2 separate regions of the Homo sapiens genome follow, and region 2 is linked to region 1. A link means that fine-mapping ties the variant in region 1 to the expression of a gene that starts in the linked region. Tissue or cell type: whole blood. Region 1 holds a variant in brackets; the other region holds the start of a gene. All regions are shown on one strand. Distances are between the middles of the regions.

Region 1 (6,268 bases):
ACTTCCCCAACTGACTAACACAGTGAATCTAGGGAAAATTTCCATCTATTACTAGATTCATTACCAAAGGGAGTAAAATGGAGAAATGTTTGCATGCCCGACCTATAACAAGCTGAGGTGATTTACTATAGCCTATTAGACAGGCTGTACCCTATGGAGAAAGTGTTATGTAATTATTGTCTCTGGAACCAAATTTCCAGAATTCAAATCCACCCTTTGCAATTTACAAGCAAAAGTTAAATTCTCAGTAACAGCACCTACATCTCAAAAGATTATTCTGCAGGTTAATAAGCATGTAAAGTGACTGAACTACTGCCTGGCACATAAATTATTACTATGTAGTGTTATAATTATTTAATTGCATAGTATGCATTAAATCCTTCTGTAGAATTGGGATAATAAACTTTAAATTCATTAAATGAAATGTCACATGCCTACAATAAACTGCTATTCACCCATTAAAGCCTATTTCAATTCTCTATTATGAAAATACATCTATTTGGGCTGGGTACGGTGGCTCACACCTGTAATCCCAGCACTTTGGGAGGCAGAAGCAGGCAGATCACAAAGTCAGGAGATTGAGACCATCTTGGCTAACACAGTGAAACCCCGTCTCTACTAAAAATACAAAAAAAATTAGCCGGGCATGGTGGCAGGTGCTTGTAGTCCCAGCTACTGGGAGATCACGCCACTGCACTCCAGCCTGGGAGACAAAGCGAGACTCCGTCTCAAAAAAAAAAAAAAAAAAAGAAAATATATCTATTTAATCTATTTATAATATCCTGCTAAACAGAGAGAAAACAGTAAGTTGGAAAATAACATATAGCCTAATTTTGTATTTAGAGAAGATGCTGATAAAGTTATAAAAGTTGCAAGTCACTGTACTATTTAAGTGGCAACTGCCAAAAGTGATTCAGCGTAATTTATTATCCTTTCTTGTCCCCAGGAAAAAGGTTTAAAATAACATCATGATTCTAAAATGGTAATACCAATAATCAAATGCTACACATCAGTTATTTCAAAAATTTAGAACTGTATACATTTAATGTGTTAATTCCTCCTTTGCACCTAAAAGCTGATGCTTAAAATTGGACTTCATCTTAGAATTAAGAAAATAGATCAATTTATAATAGATACACTACTTCAGTCCCACCCACTGCCAACATACCAGTAACATCATCACTTTTAAGTAAACTCTTGAAGTACTCAAAACTATACATATTGACATAGACAGTAAGTCACCTTAACCAATTACCCAAGTTTAACTAGCAGATATTATGTACAGTATGCTGAGATTATAATAAACACAGAATTCTGATTCAGTATTTCTAGAATACTGAACAAGAGGTGTTTGTGGCATTGAGAGTACTGTGATAACCTGTGGTACCCTTTAAACTGCTTTAAAATTTTACAATGAAATCAGTGCTATTAATTTCATGTTTATTTCATACAGGGTTTTTGTCAAGTTTATCAGTTTTAAAATGATTAAGTCATAATCACCATTCAAAGACAAATTTTCCTCTCAAAATAATAATTTCCATTCTGCTACCTACAGTTTGGCTTATCCTTTGGTCTGATAGCCATACTTCATCTCACAGGACTATACAAGTATGTACTATGTACAAAACATTTTCAAGTTTGCTTTCAAATGATACCTACAAAGAGTAGATCAAGTTTTCAAGTTTACAGAATACCATACTACAACAATTTACCACTATAAATATGTCTTAACACCTGTTTATTCCATTCTATTTAGATTGCAACACTAACAAGATTCTTAATGCATATGTCCCCACCACCTGTACTTTCCCTACACTATCATTTTGACACTTAACATAGAAACAACTCAATTCAGCAACCAAGTTTTACAACCACTGTTGCTACCAATCAAATGGTGATGCATCAGATCCCAATTCTCATGAGTATTAACATATTAAGAGAGTACATTATTTACCTAAGACTGAATGACTGTGCCTTACTTTATAAAAAAACAAAGATAGCCACATCAATTTAATTCCATATATATGATACTACCTATTCAATTTATTAAAAATTGTAATAAACATAATAATCAAACTAGTGCTCCAAACTTATGCTGTTCACATGGAAGACACCACAAAAGAAGACATAATATAGAGACTGCCTTGCAATAAGAAGTACAAATTCCTTCTATAAAGATGGAGAAATAAAAGGACAAATCTAGTTGTCTAAAAGACAATTCACTGTACACATTTTATTTACAGTTTTGTACACTGTCTTAATATGAATGGGACTGCTTTTCTACTTGAGCCATTTTTAACCAAAGCAAAATAACCTAAGTAATACAAAGTGTTAAAATACAGCATAAAGATACAAAAACAGACATACTAATTCTAGTTAGGAATGTAATTATGATGTTACATTTTTTATAATCCACAATTATGTTTAGGAAATCACACAAACATAGATCACTGATTTGAATGAAATGCATAAATTTGTAGCAAAGCTTTGTAGTTACAAAAAACAAAAAAAATTACCAAAGAATGCACAAAATTAATGTTTATTCCACCTTTGTGTCATATTCCTGGATCCTTCACCAATGTTACATGAGGAAAAAAACAAAAGCAAAACAAATGAAAAACTGAAATCAGAATCACTAATATTATCAAGTAGGGAAACAAATAAATTAAAATCTAGCAGCCATCAGCAAGAGTACAGCAAAGACAATGCTGTAAAAAGAAACAAAGAAAATTGCTAGAAAACTGTATGCATCATAATCTTTCAAACCAGCAAAATATGCTTCTGCATAAAATGGAACAACAGAATTTTTTTTCCTGTAAAGTATAGAAATGCCAAGTTGTTTTCTGACTATTGTGGATAGGTAAAATCTGTATGTAATTAATGGTAATTCTACTGAACTATTACAGAGTGGGCCAGGAACACATTTATGGATTCTGGGGATGTGTACTGTAATTCTTTGATTGGGATAGTGGAAACTCTAGC[C/CA]AAAAAAAAAAAAAAAAATGAACACAGAAGTACAAGACAAAGGCGAATGAGACTTCTCTTATATCTGAGTAACATTAAGATGGAAATCAAATTTAAATGCAGTCCACTCTGCTTTTTGAAGAGGCTTTGGTTCAGCTCCCAAATCTCGATTGCTTGACGCAGTCTCCTATGAGAATACTCAGAAGGTGTCTTCTTAAACAACAAACCTATTTTTAGTGGTGGAGCCGCTCTTAGTAGCTGTGTCTGCGTGGGACTGATAACCAATCACTATCTTTGGAGGAAGTCCTAACCTTTCCTTGTATACCCTCCTAGAAGAAAAAAAAAAAGAAGAAGAAAAAAGTAGTCATTAACTTTTACTCACAAGAAATACATTTAAAAATTTAGGGTTATTAGTCTTTATATTAAAAAACATAGACTTGAGAATAAAATAGGAAATTAATTATACACCCTTTTCCTTTCAGCACAATTTACTCTTCATTTTTGCGATATTCTTGGTTAATTACTTTTAAAATATTTGAGAGCGAGTCAGGTATGTTATTACTAAATTACAGGAGCATTACTATATTATTATATTGTTATTTATTATGATACTATAATTATTACTAAATCAACAGTGAACAAAGTAAGGACAGTCCCTGAGCTGACTGCATTTATAGTCTAGTAGAGAAAACATAATCAAATAATCACAAATACATGACAGACCTGTATCACATGCATACTTAAAAACAGAAATCTGTAAAACAAACATGTTTCATTCTTTGATCTAAAATGTTACATTTCACGTCTGAACCCTAGCAAATATTGTATATTACTACACAAATTATATTAACCATACCTGTTATAAGACTGCACAAACAAAAACTAAACACTTTGAGGGAGATTAAACACTTCGAGGGAGTGAATGAAACACTTCGAGGGAGAATGTAATTTCTGCTTTACATACTAACTTTACAACCTAATTTTCAAGTAAGACATGACTCTATTGCAAGAATAAAATGGCACTTGTCATGAGTGCCAAAGAGTAAACATAAGGGCTGTGATACTGTATAACAAGGAGATTCTAATCTCATCTACAACATTAGAGAAGTCTTCCCCTTTAAATATCACGAGGTCAAAAGGATAATGTTAAGAGAATGAGCACATTTGAAAGCTGAGAAATAAAAATTAGGCTGTGTGGCTATGGCTTGTAAGTAAAGTGAACATGAGATAAAGCTGACAAGGTTTCAGAGGAAGATCACAGAGAGCTTCATAGGTCATCTTAAAAATTTGAATCTTTGGCTGGGCGCGGTGGCTCACGCCTGTAATCCCAGCACTTTGGGAGGCCGAGGCGGGCGGATCACGAGGTCAGGAGATCGAGACCATCCTGGCTAACATGGTGAAACCCCGCCTCTACTAAAAATACAAAAAATTAGCCGGGTGTGGTGGCAGGTGCCTGTAGTCCCAGCAACTCGGGAGGCTGAGGCAGGAGAATGGCGTGAACCTGGGAGGCAGAGCTTGCAGTGAGCTTGAGTGAGACTGTGCCACTGCACTCCAGCCTGGGTGACAGAGCAAGACTCCGTCTCAAAAAAAAAAAAAAAAAAGAAAAAAGAATCTTTAGGAAAAAAATAGTAAAAATTCAAAAATAAGCAAAAATCAAATAAAAATAAAGGAATAAAGATATTAATGGAGTTAAATCCTCCAACATGATACTAGGATAGGTTTTTTTTATACCTTCCAGAAGATTTACTACCTTCCCCCTAAAATAAGGTATTAAAAAGTAATTTTATGGTAACTAAAGTGTTAATTATCAAATTTGCATTATAATGCAATGCATTCCTTTCAATTATACTTAATTATTAAAAATGTCAAAAAGCAAGACCATTGAGTCATGCAAATTGGAAGGTTAAAAAAGAAAATCTTCGTTTGAAAATCTGAAGTCTTAATATACACTCAAAAACATTTAATATTGACAAAAATACAAAACTTCCGTAGGAAAAAAATTCTTAATTTAACTCATTTAAAAAAAAAAAAAGTAAATCCTCCAAAATTAGGTTTTGATGCTGGAAGAAACATTAAAATATGATGACAAATCAACTCTTTTCTCTTATGGAACCCCATATAGCATGAAATGTAGAAAATCCCTATACCTTTTGATCCAGAAATAAATTATGTTCACATAAAAATTTACATGGCTGAGAGCAATGGATCACGCCTGAAATCCCAGCACTTTGGGAGGCTGAGGCAGGTGGATGACTTGAGGCTAGGAGTTTGACACCAGCCTGGCCAACATGGCGAAACCCTGTCTCTACAAAAACTACTGCAGTGGTTCAGGCCTGTGGTCCCAGCTATTCAGGAGGCTGAGGCAAGAGAATCACTTGAACCCAAGAGGTGGAGGTTGCAGTGAGCTGACATCGCGCTACTGCACCCCAGCCTGGGCAACAGAGTGTGACTCTGTCTCAAAAAATTAATTAATTTTAAAAAGAAAAATTAATAATATTTGAAAAATCACAAAGGGGCAAACCAAACATTTTGACCACTGACTGACCAGCACTTAATTTTAACATAAAATTGTAAGTCAAATTTTTTTTTTTTTTTTTTTTTTTGTGAGACAGTCTCGCTCTGTCTCCCAGGCTGGAGCGCAGTGGCCCAATCTTGGCTCACTGCAAGCTCCGCCTCCCGGGTTCATGCCATTCTCCTGCCTCAGTCTCCCAAGTAGCTGGAACTACAGGCGCCCGCCACCACGCCCAGCTAATTGTTTTTTTTGTATTTTTAGTAGAGACGGGGTTTCACCGTGTTGGCCAGGATGGTCTCAATCTCCTGACCTTGTGATCCACCTGCCTCAGCCTCCCAAAGTGCTGCGATTACAGGTGTGAGCCACTGCGCCTGGTGTCAAATATTACTAATATAATTGAGGTAAAAAGAAATCTTAGAAAAAAAATGTCAGCTGGTTTAGCATGGTGGCTCACGCCTGTAATCTCAGCACTTTGAAAGGCTGAGGTGGCTTGATCAAGTCCAGGAGTTCATGACCAGTCTGGGCAACATGGCAAAACCTCTTCTCTACAAAAAATACAAGAAAATAGCCAGGTGTGGTCATACACACCTGTAGTTGCAGCTAATTGGGTGGCTGAGGTAGGAGTATCACCTGAGCCCAGGAGGTTGAGGCTGAAGTGAGCCATGACTGCACCACTGCACTCTTGCCTGAATAACACAGTGAGACCCTGTCTCAAAAAAAAAAAAAAAGCCACTTTTGCAAAGAATAAAATTTACAAAAAAAGGTTTAATAAAACCCTACATATGTGGGTTTTAA
Region 2 (7,270 bases), 48 kb after region 1:
CATAGTCTGGTTGGCATTCAATTGTTCATTAATATGAATTATATAGTACAACAAATATTTGTCAATATGTATATAAACCTTATTTACTCTTATTAATAAGCTGTGTAGTACAGAGCATGTTTCCAAAGTATAAAAAAGGAAGCATTAAATTAGCTGATTGTCCAAGTTGATTCACTTATGAAATTAGCGTGGTTTCAAAAAATTCAAGAGCTACAATGTAAAAACAAGTAAAATTATACACTTTCAGTTAAGCTAAAGAAATCAAAATTAATCTCTTACCTCAAAAGGAACTACAAGTCAAAAAAAAATTTTTTTAATTCTAATAATGAACGATGTAGAATGAAGATAAAGCTACAAAGAAACACGACCTACTGGAGGTAAGATGGCCTTGCCATTTTCACAGACTAATATTAAACCTAATTTTGACCCAGCCACAATTCAAATGCCGATAGAATAACATCAGAGTACCGTTTGCCCTAACGTTCAAATTTTTGCCAAATTATCCGTTAAGAGGTAAAATGTTTCCCTTAATTTTCCCTTTCAAGCTTCTCAACAAATTTAATATTTGTGGGCCACATCTTCATGTAACTCAACTCATACAAAGAGAAAACCACACAATAATATCAAACTGAAAATGATATTTTATGTAATGTCCATAGACAAAAATCATCCAGATACCTATGCATGATGGGATAAGCAGGAAAAGCCCATGGCTCTTTTTAAGTGTTTATGATTATGCACAGCAGAAAACCATTATGGAAGCTCACAAACTAGCTGAAGTAAGAAAAAACATGATTTTTGCAGCCTTCAGCAGGGGTATCTCAAGTACAATCCAATTCTAATCAGTTGCTTCAAAAAAAAATCCAGGCGAGGCTCGGTGGCTCACGCCTGTAACCCAACATATTGAGAGGCCAAGGTGGGAGGACCACTTGAGTCCAGGAGTTTGAGACCAGCCTGGGTAACCATCGCGAGATTCCATCTCTACAAAAAGTTTAAAAATTATCCGGGCGTGGTGGCCTGCTCCTGTAGTGCTTGCTACACCAGAGGCTGAGATGGAAGCATCTCTTGAGCCCAGGAGTTTGAGGCTGCAGTGAGCTATGATCGCGCCACTGCACTCCAGCCCCAGCAACAGAGCAAGATCCTGCACCCCTACACACAAAATCCAACTATTTAAAACTGTCAAAAATAATTCCACATAACTAGCCTGTGCACAAGGGTATATTAAAAGTACTAAAAATTTTCAGGCCAGGCGCGGTGGCTCATGCCTGTAATCCCACCACTTTGGGAGGCCAAGACGGGCGGATCACCTGAGGTCGGGAGTTGAAGACCAGCCTGACCAACATGGAGAAACCCCATCTCTACTAAAAGTACAAAATTAGCCGGGCGTGGTGGCACATGCCTGTAATCCCAGCTACTCGGAAGGCTGAGGCAGGAGAATCGATTGAACCCAGGAGGCGGAGGTTGCGGTGAGCCAAGATCGCGCCATTGCACTCCAGCCTGGGCAACAAGAGTGAAAGTCAGTATCGAAAAAAAAAAAATTCATTTCTCACTAAAACTAAACACTTCGATACTATTTTACATATATTCTCAAAATACTTTAGTTTCCAGCTTCACACACTTTGTTTTTAGGTTCCCCTACTCCCCAAATTTAAACATAACATCCAAATCTCCCAAAGTCTGTACCAGAACAAATACTGTATCACTAACCACATCCCTAGGAATTAAGTTCCTTAAGGGTTTACATTCAACAAGACTCACATCTTGTATAACTTTGTATCCTAAAGAACACTTGGTACAACACCCTGGATATATCAGGAGCTATTAATATTTACTAACTCAAAATATAGTCCTTCATCACTTTGCAGTTCCGCTCTGTGCTGCTGAAACAAAACTGCATAAACTCTGCAAAACTCAAGGGACCTAAATGTGACAGAAACCTCACAGAACTCCTTATTGTTTTATAGTTTACAGTCTCGTAGCCTTGCCCCTATTACCAGATGTAATGCTTTTTACTGACACTAGTGTAGTGGGGTAGGAACAGATCTAGACAAAAGTGGACATCAGAACCTGTCAAGGGGTTTAAAATGTATATTTTACATACTTATTCTTCATTAGTGTTATGTAATATTAATGTCCTAAAGTCAGTTAACTGTAGCAACAACTTATGAGTTTTTCAGTCAATTTAATTCCCAGGAACATAAATGAAAACTGGTGCCAATAAAAAAACAAGTAAGCAAGCAGAGAAGCTGCCTTGAATTTTGACAAGGTAAGGATAGTTTACACCAACGCAATGAAAAATAAGCCTTTGTGTAGTCTATAAGAGTTTTTGAAATAGTTTTATAAAAGTCTTTAAAAGTGCCGGGTGCTGTGGCTCACGCCTGTAATCCCAGCACTTTGGGAGGCTGAGGCGGGAGGATCACTTGAGGTCAGGAGTTTCAGACCAGCCTGGCCAACATGGTGGAACCCCGTCTCTACTAAAAATACAAAAATTAGCCAGGCACGGTTGTGCGCACCTGTAATCCCAGCTACTCAAGAGGCTGAAGCAGGAGAATCGCTTGAACCCGGAGGCGGAGGTTGCAGTGAGCCGAGATCACGCCACTGCACTCCAGCCTGGGCGACAAAGCAAGACTCCATCTCAAAAAAAAAAAAAAAAAAAAAAAAAAAAAAAAGTCTTTAAAAGTCAAAGCAAACTGGTAAACCATTAGCAAAACCACAAGCTACCATGAAAAGATACACAAAAGTATCTGGCAACCAAGGTCTAGAGCTGGTTCCAGAGTGTGAAAGGTTTTCTGATTGCTAATAAACCCCATTATGCACACAAGATATCTTCACTTAGCTGTGTCGTTTCTAAAAAGGCAACAGGGCCCAGAAGTTTCAGTGAGCCAGTCCTGGCAAACCCAAATTATGAAAAATATACCCTCTGCTTAAAGATTAACTACAAACCTACCCTGGGACCAGCTTGCTTCAGTTAAGTTTAAAATGGTGCCTAAATTGAAATGAAAGTCTGTAGCATAGATAAAGAGAAAAAAAAAGTCAAATGGAAAAGTAAATTTAAAAGTTTCTATTTCCAATAAACTGCGTCTCAGAAATCTTCCAGGAGATAAAGACTCGGAAGAACAGAGGGATTGAGACCCATTCGCATTCTCTGAGGCGTGCGCACTACGCGGAAAGGATGAATGAATGGAAGACGGGCGCGTGTGAAATGCAGCAGGTCCGGCCGGCAAGCCGACCGGCTACAGCGATCTGTAGGCCTCGCTCCTCCCCCTTCCCTCCTCCATGACAGCCCAGTCCCAAGCATGGAGGGGCGAGGACAATGTGATACCCCTTCTCACCACCACCATCCCTCATTCTACTTGGAGAGCTTCACCGTGACACACGAGTGTTCCTTCCCACCCCAGACCTTTCTCGCTTCCCCTGGCGCAAACACCGGCAACTCTCCGGCGCGCTGGATTAACAGACGCTCGCCCCTCTCAACTCCCCTAAGCGAGGTCGAAGCTCCTCCGCGCGTGCCGCGGCACCACTCCCGCCTAACCCACCCTCCGGCAACACTCGCCCACCAGCTCCCCAGTCCACCGGTCTAAGGAAGACGTGCGCGCGCCCCGCACCCGAGCCCCGGAGCTGGGGTTCTGCAGGGAGGGAAAGGCTGCTCCAGGGCTCCCTCCTCCATCTCACTCCAGGCCGGCTCGCCGCCCACCCTGCCTGCGGATCCCAGTACTCGCTGGGAGCCGGCCCTGCGCCTTCCTATCATGAAGACACCATCCTCGCATACCCAGCCCAGAACCCCAGCTACCCTCCACCCTGTAGACACCTCGCGGTTCCGCAGGAGGCGCCACGCCGCCCCTCCCCCACACCGCTCCCCCAGTTCTCGGGCCCCCACCAGAAAGTGTGCGCTACACGCCGCCTCGGCCATCCTCCGGGACGTCCCCACTTGTCCGCGGGAGGTCAGGTCCAACATGAAGGGGAAGGGGCGGCAAGGGGTACAGTGCGCGCCGGGAACGCCGTCCCGCGGAGTCCCCCAGTCAGAAGGAAGACGGAGCGCGGGGACCCGTGGGGGTGGGGGCCAAAGGCAATACTCACCGGTTCGACAGTCGCCATCTTAGATCGATCTGATCGCACAACCGCTCCAGAAGGGGGGGTAAGAGGAAAAAAATGAGATTCAAACCGGATTGGCCAGCTTCTGGCCACGTGACGGATATGTCCGTTTGGCCCTGGCGGCACCTGCGCAAGACTGCGGCTGCGTGAGTAACGAGAGGCTTCTGGGAAGTGGAGTCTCTCCCCCACCTTTTTTTTTTTTTTTTTTTTAAGGTAAAGAAATTTTTTTTAAAAAGGACTGGTCACGTGGCCGATGGGTAGGGTGCGCGGTTCTCAACGCGGCGGACACTCGCTTGCTGGAGGGTGGTTTCAGTCCTCTGCTCTTCCGCCTGGATAGCTGCGGTCACACTTACTGCCAGGCAAGCCTACTGTGCCCTTTGTCGCCCTGTCCTCCCATCTTCCCCGGAAGGTTGGGAACTGCAGGCTCAGCACACACAATAAGGCTTCATTTGCTTAGTTGAGGTCCCAGGACAAGTTGCCTGTGTGTTTATTTAGTTTTCTTTTGATCTCCCACCATTTTCTCTTAGTTTCAAAAAGAGGCGGCGATGCAGAGTCGTTTAGGCAATCAACCCTCCCACGTCCCCTGGCTCAGCTAATGCTGGTGGTCATTCGTTGCCATTTCTGCGAAAGGGGACGGACGGAACCGCCCGCAGTACCCGCTTGCCACCGGCTGGACGAGGGGGAGGGACGACAGCTTTTACTGTCCCAAATCCTGAGATTAAGACCTCAGGGCTAAATCTTGCGTGGCGGTAAAAATTATTTGGAAGTTCTGTGCAACCGTTCCAATATTCCGCTTTTACGTGCACGGAAATAGCCTAAGTCCAGATGCCAGCCAGGGAAGCCACTCCGGGCCCCGCTGACTAAGCCCTGGACTGATGGTCTGGAGTCTTTAGGCCGGGTCAACTATGACTCTTGACGTTGACTCATTCTCCTTAGGCGAGTGACTTAATCGCTCGGCGTCTCAGCTTTTTTATTTATGAACCAAAGGTGATGATACACTTACCTCACAAGGGTGTGCTTCGTAATGACTGTAACCGGCTTTGAAAATGCATCGGACTCTAGAAATGATTCATAATAAGCAACTGCGTGCCTTCCTAAAGATCAAGTGCTTCTGCTTTTTTTTTTTAGCAAAGTTTAAATTTTTTTCTGTTTACTTTGTTTGATTATGATGTACACCAGTGTAGTTTTAAATGTTCAGGACCATTTTTTTTCCTTTACAACTGCAGCTGCCCTCAATAGAGGCTTTAATGTTCATGAAATTATTGTTATGCTCACAACAATCACTGGCAATCAGAAATTTGTCCCCACACTGGCATCCTACATTTCCTTTCCCTCTAAGATACTGTGCTGTCATTTCTCAAGACCGTGTTTTTTGCACAGTTTGGCTACTAATAACAACAAATAGAGATGAAGAAATCTAGTAGACTCCTAAGGTTCTAATGAAGAAGACACTGTCTCATTACTATTTCCCATGCTTTTAAATAATGTTGACACCAGGAAAAGGAGTGTATGCAGGCTGCCTGTGCCTGTCTGCTTATAGTGTTAATGAGGTCCAGAGCTGTGTCATACCTATTATTGAGTACATAATGGATGCTTGAGTTGACTAACACATAATTGAGGCTGTATGAGAACTCAAAGCCATTGCCTGTTCATATGTTTTGGTTTACCTGAATATCAGAAGTGATTAATGAAAGCTTTTGTCTAGTGGGCTTAGCTCTACTAGGTTTTAAAGTAGATAGAATTAACAGGCCAGGCGCAGTGGCCCACGCCTGTAATCACAGCCCTTTGGGAGGCCAAGGCGGGCGGATCACCTGAGGTCAGGAGTTCGAGACCAGCCTGACCAACATGGTGAAACCCTGTCTCTACTAAAAATACAAAAATTAGCCAGGCATAGTGGCACCTGCCTGTAGTCTCAGCTACTCAGGAGGCTGAGGCAGGAGAATCACTTGAACCTGGGAGGTGGAGGTTGCAGTGAGCCAAGATCCCGCCACTGCACTCCAGTCTGGGCGACACAGTGAGACTCCATTTCCAAAAAAAAAAAAAAAATGATAATAAACGGATAAGTGGATTTCTACTTACAGAGACTATCTACTGTTACTTAGACTATCCAAAATAATTCTGTTGACCGCGTTGTTATTTTCTGCTGGTTAGAAGTGGTGTCAGGTTACCTTCTTTGAAGAGAAAAAGACAGCATAGATGTCCTATTTTCCCCTTCCCCACCCTTCCCCACCCTTCCTCTCCCTTCCCTACCCTTCCCCTCCCTTCCCTTCCCTTCTCTTCCCCTCCCCTCCCCTGTCCTCCCCTCCCCTCCCTCCCCTCCCCTCCCATTCTCTCTCTCTCTCTCTCTTCCTTCCTTCCTTCCTTCCTTCCTTCCTTCCTTCCTTTCTTTTTGTCTTTTCAGGGTGTTGCTCTGTTACCCAGGCTGGAGTGCAGTGGCATGATTATGGCTCACTGCAGCCTTGACCTTCTGGGTTCAAGGGGTCCTCCCACCTTAGCTTCCCAAGTAGCTAGGACTACAGGCATGGGCCACCATGCCTAGCTAATTTTTTTATATTTTGCAGAGACAGGAGCGTCTAGCTATGTTCCCCAGGCTGGTCTCAAACTCCTGGGCTCAAGCGGTCCCCCTACCTGGGCCTCCCAAAGTGCTGAGATTGCAGGCATGAGCCACCATTCCTGGCCAGATGTCCTATTTTCATGAAGCTGTTATATAACAGCAAAAAATCAATGAGATTGGCAAGAAAATACCTATAGGACTGAAAGCCAGTGATGTTCTTAAAACTTTTTTTAAACAACAGTTTCCATTTTTATTAAATTTTCTGTTAATCAAAAAACTCGGGCCGGGCACGGTGGCTCATGCCTGTAATCCCAGCACTTTGGGAGGCCAAGACGGGCGGATCACGAGGTCAGGAGATCGAGACCATCCTGGCTAACACGGTGAAACCCCGTCTCTACTAAAAATACAAAAATTAGCTGGGCATGGTGGCAGGCGCCTGTAGTCCCAGCTACGCGGCAGGCTGAGGCAGGAGAAAGGAGTGAACCCAGGAGGTGGAGCTTGCAGTGAGCGGACATCGCGCCACTGCACTCCCTCAGTCTCAAAAAAAAAAAAAAAAAAAAAACTCCCTCTTGTCAACCAAGACTCATACTTTTACAATACTTATGGATGCTCTATTCTTTATGG

What was found. PIP is the estimated chance that this variant, and not a neighbour inherited with it, causes the effect.
Region 2: it holds the start of EIF4E, and the variant in region 1 is fine-mapped to the expression of EIF4E in whole blood (INTERVAL, PIP above 0.99).

Annotation. Positions count from the first base shown.
Region 1 is chr4:98,877,853-98,884,120 of GRCh38, forward strand. It overlaps EIF4E (eukaryotic translation initiation factor 4E), which reads right to left. Exons shown (of 7, transcript NM_001968.5): 7 at 1,424-3,290. The coding sequence ends at 3,176. Among named protein-coding and RNA genes, the nearest start is that of EIF4E, 48 kb to the right of the region's middle. The variant C/CA (reference allele first, on the strand shown) is at 2,983.
Region 2 is chr4:98,925,018-98,932,287 of GRCh38, forward strand. EIF4E (eukaryotic translation initiation factor 4E) reads right to left here and starts at 4,116. Exons shown (of 7, transcript NM_001968.5): 1 at 4,078-4,116. The coding sequence starts at 4,095. RefSeq lists an enhancer at 4,510-5,709.